3 linked regions of the Homo sapiens genome follow. The protein of the gene in region 2 purifies or fractionates together with the protein of the main gene of each other region. This does not show direct contact. Each region holds a gene or a part of one and is shown on either strand. Other genes may lie near its edges. The genes, in order: TMEM106B, SLC2A6 and OPALIN.

Evidence for each region.
Region 1: the proteins of SLC2A6 (region 2) and TMEM106B purify together in Homo sapiens (affinity purification with mass spectrometry; one large-scale study listed by BioGRID and IntAct). This does not show direct contact.
Region 3: the proteins of SLC2A6 (region 2) and OPALIN purify together in Homo sapiens (co-immunoprecipitation; one large-scale study listed by IntAct). This does not show direct contact.

Annotation. Positions count from the first base shown.
Region 1 is NC_000007.14:12,221,287-12,224,939, reverse strand, and holds part of TMEM106B (transmembrane protein 106B), read right to left. Parts: intron 715-3,653; coding exon 555-714; intron 1-554. UniProt on the Homo sapiens protein: In neurons, involved in the transport of late endosomes/lysosomes. May be involved in dendrite morphogenesis and maintenance by regulating lysosomal trafficking.
Region 2 is NC_000009.12:133,476,996-133,480,748, forward strand, and holds the start of SLC2A6 (solute carrier family 2, facilitated glucose transporter member 6), read right to left. Parts: upstream 2,105-3,753; 5' UTR 2,065-2,104; coding exon 1,973-2,064; intron 1,422-1,972; coding exon 1,259-1,421; intron 247-1,258; coding exon 40-246; intron 1-39. UniProt on the Homo sapiens protein: Probable sugar transporter that acts as a regulator of glycolysis in macrophages. Does not transport glucose.
Region 3 is NC_000010.11:96,348,993-96,352,645, forward strand, and holds part of OPALIN (opalin), read right to left. Parts: intron 2,419-3,653; coding exon 2,386-2,418; intron 835-2,385; coding exon 715-834; intron 1-714. UniProt on the Homo sapiens protein: Central nervous system-specific myelin protein that increase myelin genes expression during oligodendrocyte differentiation. Promotes oligodendrocyte terminal differentiation.

The sequences.
Region 1 (3,653 bases), on a different chromosome or scaffold from region 2:
TATACATATGTAACAAACCTGCATGCTGTGCACATGTACCCTAGAACTTAATAATTAAAAAAAAAAAAACACGGCATTTTCACATATGCTAATTTACAAAAGAGAAACCAGTCACCTGTATTTCATCTTTAAAGCTGATAAAGGAATGGTCTATTAAACGTGGCAAAAACTGTATTTCCCAAATACAATGAAATCAAAATGTTACATTTATAAAATCTATCAAATCAACTATGTCAACACTTTGCTAGAAGTTATTCAGAGTCATATGCTGAAAAGTAAATTGTAATACCTTTTTTCTTTTTTTAGTTTATTTTACCCTCCTAAAGACATTTTCAAATGCTAAATCATTCTGTATATACAGAATTGCCAGTATTTATTATTGCTATTTTTAGCAGAACCAGAAATGGTAGAGAACGTCAATACAGAAAAGACATACAGAAAGCACACTGACCAGTGTCACATTTAACAAACATCTCTTCTCAATGGGGACAAAGGTGCTGCTTAATAGGATAAAAGAATGAAGTTAAACATTTTTCATATAAATTTATACTCACTGTGATATTTAAATAAATTGTACGCTTCTGAACATCATAACTGACATAGGCTGATTTTACACCAATGTATTTCACGTCGATAGAGCGAGGGAAAAGGAAAAACACAGCCAATCCAGAAAGGAGTAGACAGACAAACACAGAAGCCATCACATACAGCTTTCTGAAAAGGAAAAGAGGGTATTTAAGTACATGTGCATCAGAAATTATATAACACAACATTAGAGAAGGTATGTTCAATTTCCCCCATATATCAGCAGCAACATATATAAGATGCTAAATGTTACCAAATTTTCACATCTGAAAGTATTGGGTATGGTTGAGTCTGAGTCTATTAAGTGTTAAGATGTTCTCTTTAAAAGATGAAATCGGCGGGATGCGGTGGCTCACGCCTGTAATCCCAGCACTTTGAGAGGCTGAGGCGGGCGTATCAAGAGGTCAGGAGTTCGAGACCAGCCTGACCAACACAGTGAAAAACCATCTCTACTAAAAACACAAAAATTAGCCAGGTGTGGTGGTGTGCGCCTGTAATCCCAGCTACTCAGGAGGCTGAGGCAGGAGAATAGTTTGAACCCGGGAGGCAGAGGTTGGAGTGAACTGAGATCGCACCACCGCACTCCTGCCTGGACGAGAGAGCGAGACTCTGTACCAAAAAAAAAAAAAAAAGGAATCACATTTTTGGACACTGAAATTTTGGGCTTAAAAACAATAGAACATTTACTTTTTTGACTGCCAGAGCAGTTTTCACATTAGATTCAAGCTGAGGAGCTTCATACAAACGCACATTTCAAAACTCCCTCTGAATTCACTGAAGCAGAATTTTCACATGTTAAGTTTTGCCATTACATGATCCCCTAAAGTGACTGCTCATCAGAACCATCTTAGAAATAATAATGATGGGGAAGGGAGAGCATTAGGAAAAATAGCTAATCATGCTGAGCTTAATACCTAGGGGATGGGTTGATGGGTACAATAAACCACCATGGCACACATTTACCTATGTAACAAACCTGCACATCCTCCATATTTTTAAAATTAAAAAAAAATGACACAACCACATGGCTCATCAATGATTCTTACTATAATTAGTCTTTTTTTGAGTATTCTCATCTCAAAGTACTTACATACTCAGTTTTTAAGATTTTTTTTACATTGATCAACTCTGCTTTGAAGGTGTTGTTACATTTCTTTTTCTAATCAAGAAAAGATATTTCATGCAGGTATAAGACAAGGAAAAATTTGTAGGTAAAAACTTCCTCTTTTCAAGGTTAACCTCAAAACCAGAGTTCAAATAACTATTTCCTGTTCTCTCTAACATACAAGTCCTCTATTGGATGCCCACAACATCCTTTTTTTGTTTTTGAGTCTTGCATGACAATTACTTATTTTCCTTACAATCTACTTATACAAAAATTTTCCATTTTATTGTTTCTTCCACTCTCCGCCACCATTTCCTTTCTAAATGCTCTGATGGATTTAATCTTTGTATGTATTACAAGAGCAATTAAAGTGCCTCCTGCAGATATTTTATAAATATTTCTTAGTGTTTTAAGTTGCCCAAGTTAAGAACAGAGCAAACTGGTTTATTAAAAAACAAAATAATACAAGCAAACACAAATTTGCTAAGTCACTGCTACTAAGTCCATGCTGTTGTCTTGAGCAATCAAAACAGTTCCCACTCACTCATTTTGGACTCTCTCAACCTGAGTAGGGGTAGTGATCCCCACTGGATTACCTAATAGGAAATTTAAACACGTTTATAGTATCTATAACACACCAAAATACATAAAAAGGCATAAGAAGTGTTTAACATCATCATAATAAAATCTGAACTTTGTTGGATTTTCTACACTTCAGCGTTTTATTTTTAATTACTTATGGGCGGGTGAATCCATCATAATCTAGTCCTTAGGGCTTATAAGTCAGTCCTAGTTGTGAATAAATGAATCATGTTCTAAATTACTCTGTATACCACGTTTGTAGCCATAACGAACATTACTGAACCTGGTGGGACAATAAAACAACATTCCATCTAGTATTTCATTCCAAATTGAAAAGTTGGCTAGTTTACTGACAAAATATATGTCTCCATTACAAAATTAACTAGTAATGATTTTTCTTATGGCTCTAGTGATAGCAACCAAATCCTGGGAGTTATAAGGTGCTAATGAAGTTATGAAAGTTGTGTGGTATATCTGCAATCAAGTTAGAATTCCATTTTTGCCATTTCCTACCTGCAGTATTTAATGCAATTTACTTTTCTTCCTCTTTAAAATCCATGTTTGAGGATTAAATGACATAGCTAAAGTATACAGACAAAAGCAATTGATAAATATAATTTTCTAATAATCTTACAAATCACTCAATTTGTAAAGAAATAAAGACCCAAAGTTGTTCCCAAAATATTATAATTTTATTACAAATTGAGAAACAACAACTGTTCTTGGCCTTGTGTGAGCTCTGAGGACTATTCTCTCTGCTCCTATTGGGTGGTCTTTCCTCAGCCTCAGGTATGTTCCTCACACATATATGTTGATCAGGACACAGCTGCAGGCTTAAGAGCACCCTCTCCAGCTCTCTACCTTCTGGTACTCTGCCCTGCTAACTCTAGTCATTTTGGCTTTCTGGACACCCAGTTCCATCTCCATTGAGGAAGACCACTGAGCTCTGCCTGGGTTGGTTCCTTCCTTGTGCTGCAGGCTGGAACCTTTCTCAGACAGTAAGCTGGTACAATCACAGGGCTTGCTGGTGCAATCATAGGGCTTATCTCCTTTGTTTTTGCTTTCTCAGGAATCACTGCCCTGTGCTGGCTGATGTCCAATGTCTGAAAATATTGTTTACTATATTTGTCCAGTTTTACAGTGATTTCAGGTGGGGTATTTCAGGCATTATTCTATTTGGGTCAAAAGTGGAAAATTCAATTTCTTTGATTTTGTATCTCTTTGGTCTTATTGCTAAAACTCTTGCTCCCTAAGGCATTTACATAATAACTTATTTAAGTATAAAATTTCCAAACTACATCAAAGGTACTCCTAATAATGCAACTATTAAGTACAGTTTAAAATTTGTTGTGATTCTCTTTGCCATTTGGAACACAACTCC
Region 2 (3,753 bases):
GAGGCATTGGGGCGCCTGGGTGGGAAGGCCTGGCCTTACCGGGATGCAGGCAGCTGTGAGCCCCCCGGCGAAGCCCGTCAGCGTCCTTCCGAGCAGCAGCATCCAGAGGCCGTGCGCACCCGCCATGAGCGCATAGCCGGCCGCCGACGGCACAGCTGAGAACATGATGCTCAGCTTCCGGCCCAGGAGGTCGTTGAGGATCATGGCACTCAGGCCTCCGGCCGCTGCTCCCAGGGTGAACACGGACTGCAGGGGAAGGGGGTGCAGGGCAGATATGTCTGGGCACTTGGCACCCCAATCTCATCAGAGTCCAGGGACAGCTTCTTCCCTAGGCCGACCCCAGGAGCTGGTCAAGCACTTGGCCAAGTCAAGCACTTGAAACAGGGAGCCTCCTGTCTTCAAGGAACAGCCATTTGTTAGGGATGCCCAAACGGGGAATTCTGCTCTAAGGAAGAGGTGCTGCGCCACATATCCACAGTGGTTCTGTCCAGCCTGATGTTTAAATGTCTAATATTTTAATACAGGAGAATTCTGTGACTTGAAGGTACTGGGCTTTAAGATTTGGAGGTTCTTAAGTTCCCTGTACAGCAGCAACTGGGACCCCCTCTGGACTCTGCTAACTGGTAGTGGGACCTGGGCACATTGCCCAGCCTGTCTGCACCTCAGTTTCTTCAGCTGTCTTATGGGGAGAGCGCAAGTTCTACCTCGTGGCGTTGGCCCTGAGAATCAATGAACGTTCAGTGCCCAACACATGCCTGGCACATAGGAAGTGCTCAGTAAACCTTGGGAATTTTTATCTTAACTACTATGTTAACAACTCTACATATGAGGCTATTAAGATTATAATTTTAGACTCTGGGACTCTGGGATCTTCCTCTCCATCAGCCCACAATCTGTCCTGCGGACTCTCCTTGCCCCAGCCAGTGCCTCTCCCCACTGACACCTGATACCCTTGCCCCCATCCAGCCAACTGTGGGTGTGGGGACCCGGGGAAGCCTCAGCCCCACCTAGTATAGACCCTGACAGCCACCTCCCCACCTGCTCCTTCCCTCACCCTCTCCACTGGCTTTCAGTTCCTCATTTCAGAGGAATCCTGTAGCTTTACCCCACCCACTAGTGGCCTGGATGGCTGGGGGAGGGGGGACCAGGGCCCTGGAGGGACCCCCAAGGTGGAGAATTTGGGAGGTTCCTAGCTGGAGATAAGGCTCAGCAGGTCCCTCCTTCCTGCACCCACCCTCCTCCAGAGGATGGTCCTTACCCCAAACCAGGATGCCTGGGATTTGGTCAGATGCAGGTCAGGATCCAAGGAGCGCTCCAGGGCTGGGATGACAGGGGATGTGTAGACCAGGGCATACCCAAAGCTGAAATTGCCGAGCACTGCGGCGAAGGTGGCCAGGAACACCCTTTTGTTCTGCAGGGTCCTGGTGATGGTGGCGGACAAAAAGACCAGGGTCTCTGAGTCCCTCCTCCAGGGACCATTGCCTTTTCTGAACCCAGTGGCTGCCCGGCTCAGCGGGCAGTGCTAGGGAGGCCTGGGTCCAAGGCCATTCACGTTCCCAGGGCCTGAGCCCCAGCTCCCCTGGGAAATTCCCAGGCCATTGTTAGCTCATCCGCAGTGGCTGAGCCTCTGGTGCTGGGGCCTTTTCTCCGGAAGAGGAGGCTCTGGTTCTGCCCCCAGGGCGGCGGCTGGAGGCTTGCTGTGTGACCTCAGGCAGAACCCCTGCTCGCTGGGGCCTCAGTCTCACTGTCTGTGGCAGTGGGGGGCTGGGCCCGGTACTCTCGTGGATCGTTCCTTCCCTTAGGGGGACCAGTTCCTTAAATAGGAGTAGCGTGTCTGGGACAGGAGGGAGCCAGATGGCCCCTCGGTGGCGACTAGGTCAGGGGAGGCCCAGGGCGGGAGCCTGCCGCCGGCTGGAGGGAACCAGGGCCACCCCCAGGCCCCACCCGCAGCCCCCAACCTAGCGACTCTCACCCGACCCGCGCCCTGTCCCCTGGCGACGGGGGCGGCTTCTCGGGGAAGGTGTCGTAGTCCGGGCCCTCGGCTCCCAGCAGCGGCTCCTGCATGGCCGGGTCTCTCTCGGGGCGAGCGGAGGGCGCTCAGACTGGAGCAGCCGCCCGGGGCCAGCAGCTCCGAGGGCACCGGCCAGGCTCCGCCCCTTGGCCGCTATTGGCTGTGGGACGGCCCTGCAGAGACACGCCGGCCAATGGGGCGGCCGCAGGCTGTCCTGATGCTCGGATGCGGACCCGGCTTCCCCGGGCGCGGCCGGCACCGCGTGCGCCCCCGAAGGTCACGCCCCAAGACAGGATGGGGGTCCCAGGGCGGAGCCCCTGCTGGATCGTCCGGGGCCCCCGCGGAGCGCCGGAAGCGGCTCACCCGGCCCGGCTCTTGCAGGCGTGACTGCGGCAATGCGCGCAGCCCCTGTCGTACTCGCTCCCGCGGGGTGGAAACCGAGGCCCAGAGAGGCGAAGCCGAGCGCCAGGGTCACAGCGAATGCGCACCTCGCTCCTCCTTACGCTCTAGCCCTCCCCGTCGCGTGGCGTCTCAGGGCCACCTCTGCCCTGGCTCTCCCTGGCACCAGGGAATCGGGGTGTGTCAGGGCAGCAGCGGATGTGCGGGACGAAGGAGGCAGGAGGGGCCGGCGAGGCGCTGTGGGCAGCTCCAGTGGGCGAGGTCTGTATCCTCCACCCCAGGCTCTGGTGGTAGAAATAACCTGAGCTCGTGACACGTAACCCAGGTAGTAAGATAACATTGAAAAATAAGAAAAGCAGAAATGGAAAATTCCCGGGAAGACCGTCCTCAAAAAATCCCACAGCAGTTCCACCTCTCCCTTTGGGCCTTTTCGGGAAGAGGACGGAATCACGCCCTGCTCTGTTGGATGGACGTGCCACACACGCTTTTAAACGGAGCCTTTGTTGCTGAGTATTTGGGTCATTTCCCATTTTAGCTATTAACATGGTAAAGCATTTTTAAAAGTTAGAATTCCCTTTTATTATGATTGAAATACAACCATAATAGAACAATAAAATCACATCCATCTCCCGTCAGCCTGACCTTGATGGCGTTTTAGCCTCTTCCAGTCTTTTCCTCATGTGCCTATTTTGCATATTTGCTATTGGGGCCCCCATTAAACTGTGCAGCCCCTTTACGTCACCGTTTTCTTGCCATCAAGATCATAGGCTTTGGACTCAGGCACACCCTGGTATGGTGATCAGGCTGCACAGTCCTCGTGGCCATATATATACGTATATACATATATATGTGTATGTATTTTTACATATCTATATGTGTATTTTTTTTTTTTTTTTTGAGACGGAGTCTCGCTCTGTTGGCCAGGCTGGAGTGCAGTGGCACGATCTCAGCTTACTGCAACTTCCACCTCCCGAGTTCAAGCGATTCTCCTGCCTCAGCCTCCCAAGTAGCTGGGATTACAGGCATGTGCCACCACGCCCGGCTAATTTTTGTATTTTTAGTGGAGACGGGGTTTCACCATGTTGGCCAGCTTGGTCTTGAACTCCTGACCTTGTGATCCTTCCGCTTCAGCCTCACAAAGTGCTGGGATTACAGGCGTGAGTCACCGCACCCGGCCTTCTCTTTTTTTAAAATGTATTTTTTTTCTTTTAAAATCAACTTTAGGCCAGGTGCAGTGGTGTGTGCCTGTAATCCCAGCATTTAGGAGGCCAAGGTAGGAGAATTGCTTGATGCCAGGAGTCTGACACCAGCCTGGGCAACAAAGTGACCCTGTCTCTACAAAA
Region 3 (3,653 bases), on a different chromosome or scaffold from region 2:
AAATGTTAAGTCACTTGTCCAGGATCATATAAATCATAAAGTGGCAGAGTCAGGTTTAGAACCTCAATTTTCAATCTCTTAATTAATGTTTACCCATATGATAACAACCTTGAATGTCAATAAATAGAGAATAGAATTAGAACCCAGAGTCCACATGACACAGTTGTGTCACAACCATGGAACCTTGTTGGATATGAGTCTAGGTGGCTTTTGATTTCTAAGCATAGTCCCCAGAACAGTCTGGCATTGGAGGGGTGGATTGGATGGGGAGGATATAGATTCCCTTGTGATTCTATCATGGTGTCTATCATGGACACCTCAGCCCCTCTTCATCTCCTATCTTTCTTAACGTTATCTCCATCCTTTCTTTGTGAAGCTTGTGCGCTTTTGTTTCTCAACTTTAGAAAGCACACCCACTGTACAGACATGTGTTTGCCATGGCAACAGACATCCTTCTCCACTGCTACTTTTTGTTACCCCAAATACCATCTTTGTCAGGAATTCCTCAACTGACCTGAAGGTTTTATGACAAATCAGCTCTGTCTGGTGCCTAATGTCATGTCTGCAGTGGAAATTATGGCCCAGAAACTTCCAGCATCTTGTCCTCAGGAAATAGACATGGGCCCTGAATTCTGACACCCTTAGTCCAAAAGCCAGTTCACTGAAATACTGGTGGCTGCCTATACATCTGGACCCAAAGAAGCTAGTAATCACCTCCATGGCCTCAATGCTGCTTCTTCTTCGGTGAATCAAAGTAAATAGTAAAGCCACCAGCAGGGCTGTGGCCACCAGCAATGGTATGCCCGCCGCTAATCCAAGAGAGGGCCCACAGTCCTGGCACAGAATGAAAAACACAGGGTCAGAGGAAGCCCAGAGTCTTCAATAATAAAGGAAAAATTCAATAGAATAAAAATAAAACAAAAAATCTGCATGGATCATAAACGTCATATACAAAATCAAAAGGGTAATGAAATACTGTGCAAAAATGTTTGTAACACACATGACAAATGACTTACTTTCATAGGACTTAATTTACACAGTTTAAATCTGTTGGAAAGAGTAATGATCAAGTAGAAAAATGGGCAAAGGATATGAACAGGTATTCTTTAGAACAGAAATACAAATGTCTCTTCAATGTAGGAAAAGCTGAGATACAATTCAGAGCAACAATTAGATGTCATTTTCACCTGTTTGGCTAAAAATAAAAGCTTTTATTATACACCACACTTTTTTTTTTGTTTGAGATGGAGTCTTGCTCTGTTGCCCAGGCTGGAGTGCAATGGCACAGTCTTGGCTCACTGCAACCTCCGCCTCCTGGATTCAAACGATTCTTCTGCCTCAGCCTCCTGAGTAGCTGGGACTACAGGTGCATGCCACCACACCCAGCTAATTTTTGTATTTTTAGTAGAGATGGGGTTTCACTATGTTGGCCAGGCTGGTCTCTAACTCCTGACCTCATGATCTGCCTGCCTTGGCCTCCCAAAGTGCTGGGATTACAGGTTTGAGCCACCATGCCCAGCCATACCACACTATTTTAATATGAATTAAAAAAATTTATTTGCACTTAATGTAAATGACGAGTTAATGGGTGCAGCACACCAACGTGGCACATGTATACATATGTAACAAACCTGCACGTTGTGCACATGTACCCTAGAACTTAAAGTATAATAAAAATAAATAAATAAAAAAGTGACATTTAGCCTTTCAAAAAAAATTTATTTGCAATAAATGCATTAACCTATTAATTTTCAAATTCCCATTTTGCTTTGATCGGAGTGGAAATAGTCATGCTTTTAGTTACATAAGTTTTCAGATTTGCAGACTATCTGGAAATATTGAAGATAATCTGCAGAAACCCTATAAAAGTGCAACTGTTATTTAATAATGGATTCACCTTCACTTCACTTTAGGGGGAAATTGATTTTATTGAAGAATAATAAAGTATATGAATCACAAATATATAAGTGGATGACTTTTCACATGAGGAATACACCCATAAGACCAACACCCAGATCAAGAAACAGAACATTAGCAGTATCTCAGGATCCCCCTCAAATCTCTTCCAGCCTCCTTGTGCGTGACCACTATTCTGAAATCTATTGCCATAGAGTAGTTTTGTCTGTTTTTCAGCATAATATAGATGCAAATATAAGATATGCACTCTTTGTGTCTGGCTTCTTTTGCTCAACCCTTTGTGAAATCCATCTGTGATTTTGCATGTTCTCCCTCACTTTTGAGCGGAGCTGGTCAAGAATAATTCTTGAGCCAGATTCTGTGCTTAGTGACAGTTCACCTATCAAACTTTAAAGCTCAAAACAAATGCTCAAGATGGATGGAGCATTATTATTATCCCCATTTTATAAATTTAAGTGATATAGTTACCGTTTCTTTCCCACCTGTGACAGGAGAGGACGTCTGTATGGAAAAAGAACATATATTGTAAAAGAACAAAAAGTCTATAGAATATACATTATACAAGACAATCTGCCAAAGTTTAGGCTATAAAGCCTAAAGTTTATCCCTTTGCTAAACTTTCTGTTAACAACTACCAAACAGAACCTAACTTGATTGCTTCCCAGGTAAGAATTGGAATAAAATTTGGCTACAAGGAGAAAAGAATTAGGAAATTCAGGCAATGTCTTCATTATTCACCCTGTGGATGTACCGTGACACATTTTACAACTCAAAAGGGCTTCCTCCTGTCCCTAGTCAGCACACCTGGCACACTTTGGGCCTACTTGTCCCCATTGCTAGAAGGGAAACACATATAAATACTGGTGGAAGCAAGGCTCTTTAAGGAAGCCTTGCTTGTTTTCAAGTATGTGATGAAACAAATGGCAGAAGTTGTCAAATATCCATGCTCCTGGGGATAATTCTACATGAAATGAATGCATTACATGTTTCTGGTCCACTGAGTTATTGGTCCAATGAGTTATTGGATTTCACTCATTTATAAGATATTTCAGGCAAGAGTTTACCTTGATTAGGAAATCTAAAGGAATAAAGTTCTGCATGAGAAACTATGTAAACTACACTAAGTGGTATGCTGTGGGATTAAGAGCACAGGTCCTGGGCTCACACTGCCTGCCATAGAACAGCCATTTCTCAATTTACAAGCTAAGGGGTTGCATGTCTCTATCTACACAATATCTACAGGGATAGTAGTAGCTGCCTCTAGGGTTATTAGGAGGATTGAATGAGGAGCAGAACTATGAACTCTTGTCAGCCCTTTACACTTTGCAAAGCTCTGTCCAGATCTGTTATTTATTTAATACTCTCAGCAATCTCATCAAGTATACTGGAGTCCTGGGGCTTGGACTTTTGACAATTATTAACTCCATTTTACAAAAAAAAAATGTAATAGATCTCAGAGAAGTTATGGGGCTTGTCCAAGGTTTCACAGATAATCATAACTCTAATCTGAACTTGGATGTTTGACTTCCAAGCCCAGACCTCTTTCCCAGAGAGCTCCCATCAAAAGAAGGTTTTGATGACCAGGCACTGAAACTTGGTACTTAAATGGTTGTCCTTTGACCTAATCACAATCTCCCCAACCCCTACCCCCACACTACTTTAATCCTGCATTTCCCTAAGGTGCTCTAAGGGTAGTAGGAAGAATCAGCCATTGTTTCAGGTAAGGCTTCCTGTCT